2 separate regions of the Homo sapiens genome follow, and region 1 is linked to region 2. Evidence: fine-mapped expression QTL. Tissue or cell type: nucleus accumbens. Region 2 holds a variant in brackets; the other region holds the start of a gene. All regions are shown on one strand. Distances are between the middles of the regions.

What was found. PIP is the estimated chance that this variant, and not a neighbour inherited with it, causes the effect.
Region 1: ARNT2 starts here. The variant in region 2 is fine-mapped to the expression of ARNT2 in nucleus accumbens (GTEx, PIP 0.99).

Annotation. Positions count from the first base shown.
Region 1 is chr15:80,402,792-80,405,471 of GRCh38, forward strand. It overlaps ARNT2 (aryl hydrocarbon receptor nuclear translocator 2), which reads left to right and starts at 1,591. Exons shown (of 19, transcript NM_014862.4): 1 at 1,591-1,755. The coding sequence starts at 1,725. ARNT2-DT (ARNT2 divergent transcript) reads right to left here and starts at 1,405. Exons shown (of 6, transcript NR_184070.1): 1 at 1,200-1,405; 2 at 711-794. RefSeq lists an enhancer at 1,022-1,522.
Region 2 is chr15:80,592,720-80,595,399 of GRCh38, forward strand. It overlaps ARNT2 (aryl hydrocarbon receptor nuclear translocator 2), which reads left to right. Exons shown (of 19, transcript NM_014862.4): 19 at 881-2,680. The coding sequence ends at 979. Among named protein-coding and RNA genes, the nearest start is that of ARNT2-AS1, 9.5 kb to the left of the region's middle. The variant T/C (reference allele first, on the strand shown) is at 1,131.

The DNA.
Region 1 (2,680 bases), 190 kb before region 2:
GCTGAATTCTCATTTGGCTTGATGTTGGAATCAGGAACAGTCAACTTTGATACGGGGCACAAGAGCGGGCCATAGCTGATACCCTGGTTTCTCTGTCTGGGCCTGGCCTATCTTGTGGCTGGGTGCACACCTGCTTTATTTTTTACTTGAAATGTCTTCTTTTTCCACCTGTCCTACTCATGTCTTCAAAGCCTAATTTTCATTTTCCCTGATCACTCCACCTCCTCTCTGCCCTCATTCATTCATTAGTGACTACAGGCTGGAGATGCCAATTTCAGGGCTTCTGCCCTAAGCCCCCAAGGGAGCTGTGTGCTTCTTGAGTGCAGATACTTTGTTTCACTCTTCCCCACTCTACCCCCCAAACCAGAAGAACAGAGCTCCTGTTTCTTCCTTTCCATGGTAGGCCCAACACCTGGCTTTGTGCCTGGCACACAGCAGACATTCAACATTTGTAGAACTGATAGACTATTAGATTAGTAGTGACAAATACTCCCCGAAGAAAATGCTTATTTGAACATACATCCCAAATTTTCTGCCCTCCAGAAAATGCTTCCTTGGAAGGATTTAAGACAGTTTGATGTCTCTGCAAACATTATCTGCGTTTAGGGACCAACTTGCCCTTCTCAGCGTTCACCTGGGATGTCTTTATTCTTCCATTTAACCTTTACAGGGGACCCCGATGGTGACGTGTCCTTCCTAGGGGCCATTACCTCTCTCAGGGATCCTAGTGTCTGGTAGAAAACAACAGCTCCAAGTTCTCTGCATCCAAACTTCGCCAGGATACGCAGATAAACCTATTTAAAAAAAAAAATCTTTTTAAATTCTCAACTTGGTGGTGTAAATAAGGCCCTTGCAGCGCCCTCAAGTAATAATCAACGGCAGTCATTATGGAAGGAGGGTAGAGATGAGCGCCTTACTCAAAGCCAAGACATTCACAATTTCTCGGGCCGGCTGCCTGTGCCTGGGCGTGTGCACTGTGCACTCCGAAGCTGTGTGCGGCGGTGGCCTTGGAGGTGCGCGTGGCCTTAGGAATTCCCGCGGTCGGGCACCCTCCGCTTAACACCGGGCCGTGTCCCCGGCCTGGGAGCCGAGCAGCGCGGCTCTGGCATGCTAAGTGGGCAGCACTGGGGCGCCTTTGTTCCTCGCGGCCGTCTCCCAGGACCGGCTTCCCTCTGAATCTAAATGGGCTTCTCCCTCACCCGCTCCGCCCTGGCCTCCTGGCCTGGGCACGGCGCCCCTGGGTAAAGCGCGCCCGGACACCTGGGGCGTGGGCGTGCGGGGGCAGCCCGGGCTAGGCGAGCGCGGGAGAGGCGCCTGCGGTCCCAGCCCGGCCAGGCCCGAGCACCTGCGCGAGCCCGAGGGAGCGCCCGGCCCTCTGCCCCCGCCAGTCGCCGGCGCCCAACTTGGGGGTCCCGCCGTCCGCAGCCCCAAGTCTCGCGGTGCTACCGCTCTGACCGGGGAGCCGCGGGCCGGGCGCCCCCCGCCGCGCGACAAAGGCTGAACCGGGAGGAGGAGGCCGAGGAGGGGGAGGAGGAGGAGAGAAAGGCGGGGACGGCGAGCGGCCGCGGCGGCGGGGAGAGCGGAGGGAGCGCCGCCCGCCCGCGCCGTCCTTTGTGTGGCGGCGGCGGCGCCTGGGCCTGACCGGGTCCCCGGGGCTGAGCGCCGGGCTCCGCGCCGCCCCTCCCGCGCCCCTGCCAAGCGGGCGCCTATCCTCTCCGAGCAAGATGGCAACCCCGGCGGCGGTCAACCCTCCGGGTGAGTAGCGGCCTGGGCCCCGCCGCCCGCCGCAGCCCGCAGGCCTTGCCCGGGGCCGGAGCGGACCAGGCGCGCCGGGCGCCCCCGGGGGCGCGGAGCCGCAGCTCGGCGCGGTGGGTGGTGGAGCGGCTGTCACTACGCGGCAGCCGCAGCATCAGCACCAGAGCGGCATCTGCATCCCAATCGCTGCCCATCCGGTCCCGGGCAGGCGCCGGTCCGGACCCGCGGGCGGCCGGACGCTGGCCTCGCATCCTCGGGAACCCGAAGGGCAGGCCCGGGAGCCCCCGAAGTTCTGAAAATAACCGCCTTTGCCTTCCCCATCCCACGCATTTTTCTCTTCCGGTCCCGGCTTTTGTGGCATCACGGCGTCAGCCAGTCCTGGCTGGTGGAGGGCTCCGCGCTGACGGAGGGAAAAGTTTGGAGCTGGGATTCAACAGGGTACAACTCCCGGGACTCTCCCCTGCCCGCCCCGCCCACTAAGCGCTGGTCCTTTGCGCCCTTTGCGACTGGCTGCTGTGTGTCCTAACCCTCCGGGGGCACAAAACACCCAGCCTGTGGTCACCAGCGTGGAGCAGCCCTGGTCCTGCCCAGGTGACATCCTCTGCTTTCTGGTCTGACCTGTCCCCAGGGTGCAGTCTGTGACAACTGAGCTCATTAGGAAATATTTCAAAAATGGAAGAGTTCTTGATCAAGTGGCAACATTGACTTGTTTTGGTATTGTAGTAGGGAAGTTCCGTTTTCACTGGGAAAGTTCCCTACCTGATGAGCAGGGTGTGGGAGAAGAGAAACGTGAACATCTAAGCTAGTACAAACTTTTGGGTGTTGTGCAGAGGCTGCTGTGGGCACGGCAGGTTGCTGGGTCCCTGTGGAAGATGCAGGGAGAGTCACAGAGGGCGGCCCCCAGGAAATTCCCAGCAGAGGGAGG
Region 2 (2,680 bases):
CTCCTTCCTCCTTCTGTAAGGCCTTGTTCCTTGCCCATTCTGAGGCCCCACAGCAACCCTGTAAGGCAGAATTTCCTGACATGGATCTTCATGGTCACGATGCTAAAAAGAATTCTTGGCCAAATAAGCTTACGAAAAACTGGTTAAACAAAGTTATTGAGTTTCTTTATTGCAGGACGTATCAGAGCTTTTATTACACCAATAAGGACTGGATTTCTAGGAGGTAGGCAAAGTGTGCCTTGTTTCCCAAACTTATTTGTCCACAGAATTCTTTTCTCACAGAGTATCACATGGGCTGAGAATTCAACAGAACACATGTTGGGGAATTGGCTGTAAGAAACTAAAATAGTGCTATTCCCGTTTTCTGGATGGGTCATCTGAGGCCCAGAGGACTGGAAAGACATGTTGAAACTGAAATCTAACCATTCAGGGATTCGTCCCTGCGCTAAGATAAACATGGAAGACAGGCCAGCCAGGTCTCCACATACATCTTCCTTCCACTCCACTCTGCGTTGCATTTCTCTTATATTTTGGCCATCTGCTATCTGTTAGGTGCACCTTGCTTGGGGCCAGCCTGGGGTCTCCCCGCCAGTGGGGTTCTCGTCTACCCTGGGTCCCTGACTCAACCTTAGATAGACAAAGGGCATGTCCTAATGCCGTTTACCTGCTGTCACAACAGCTCCCTGGGGAGAACAGTTTCCCCGGGTCTCAGACATTTGAGGACCCTTGCAGAGCATCCCGCAGAAGGCTGGGGAGGACCTCTGGGCTGCCCCTTTAGGGATGGCCATGAGGGTGAGTGCAGACTGGGCTCCTGGGACATGCCCAGTGCACGGACAGAGGAGCTGACTCCCCTGTGGCTCTCTTTTCCTCTCCTCTGCAGGACATGCTGCCCATGCCAGGAGATCCAACCCAGGGGACTGGCAACTATAACATCGAAGACTTTGCCGACCTGGGCATGTTTCCACCGTTTTCTGAGTAGCTGCGGCCAGAGTGAGGCTCCTGCTGTACAGTGCCACCCATACTGTGATGTCGATGCCCATGTGAATGAGGCCCACCCTCGCCCTGCTTGCCCTGCCGCAGGCCCCCCACCAGAAGCCATCTCCCCCGCTGTGTGTCCCCAGGCGCATCAT[T/C]GCTCCACTCTCCCCTGCAGCCGCGGCTGCTCGGCCACTGACCAGGGGCCCTGGCAGACATTAGGGGATCAGTTGTATTTATTGTATTTTATCTGTGTGTGCTCAGGAGGTGAGCCTAGTGGGTCCTTAAGTTTGGTTGTGAATAATCTCTTGATAGACAATTTATACCCATGAAAGTTCAGCCAATGCCCAGAGTGACCAAGCAGCACCAGCAGGCCTGCCCAGGATGCTGAAAGCAGATTTCTTCTTGATTTCACTTCTGATGGATGCATGGGGCTCTGGGGGAATGCTGGGAAAATGGGCAAGCAGAGTGCACAGCCCTCGTTCTGCCAGCTGGAGCCAAGAAGCACAGAGACACAGAGGCGCCTGCCCCTCAGCTCCGCTGGTCTGTCTGTGCATCCACTGTGCCGTGGGACATATGTAATTTGTGCAGTGTGACATGGACTTGCTGTCCTAATGGATGTGTTGTGCCTTGTGTCTGTCATGTGTGGCCAGCGTGATTGTATAGAATCCAGAGTATGTAGAGAGCCAAAATGTGTGGCCCTGTCCCCAAGCTCAGCACCACCGGCCATGACCAGAGGTTGCTCGGCCCAGGGTCTGGGAGCTGGGCTAACAGGCTGACACTTCGGCAGGGTCACCAGGAGGCACAGCTAGGGGCATGCTCACATGGGTAGGTCAGTTCTTTGGTCCAAGCCTCTGGTGCAGATTCAAGCTCCTCCTCTTAGAGGAAGCAGCTCCTTCCTCCCACAGGAGCCCCAAGGGAGCACTCACCCTCCTCCCAATTGGATCTGAATAGCTGTGTTCCTGATCCCACATAAGCATGTCTCATCCTTGCCCCACTGGTGAGAGGAGGACCTTGTGCCTGCCCAGAGCCTGCAGGACAGCACGCCTTGAGGTCAGAGGCCTGGCCCTTCTTTACAGATGTAGATAGCAGGGTAGGACGCCCAGGCCTTCTCACATGGGCACCATGAAACACTTTCTTCCAGGCCACCTGAGCCTTCGTTCTTCAGCCCGACTGGAGGAACAGCAGCTCTGGGAGGCACAGAGTGCAGGTCTCAGGGGCAGAAGACATGGGTTCCAGTTCTGGTTCTGCCACACACCCACCGGCCTTGAATTTCTCTGGTGGTCTCAAGACAAGAACAAGAGCTGACTCTAGAATCTTCTGCCTGGCTGACCTCTGAGCCCATGATCCCTGGCTTGCTGTGCTTCTCTTGGATTTGAGGAGAGTTTATGAATCCATCCCCCTGTTTTCAGGGACCTCTGCCTTCTCCCACACCCCTTACACTAGTGAGGACTCCTTCGGCCTCTTGTGTTTCCTTCCTTTTGTGACCATTACGCCCCCTCCCTGTTTCTTATCACCAGCCCATCAGCCCACTGACTCCCATATGGTAGAAAAGGTACCGTGGCTGCTGCAGGGCACATGGAGGGACCTACCCTCTGGGAAAGCCCTTGTGTCCCTCCCAGAGTCCTTCAGGTAGGCCCTCGCAGATGCTGCTTGCTCAGAAACAACCCGTGCATCCCTGCCCATGGATTCTGCAGGACCTAGAAGA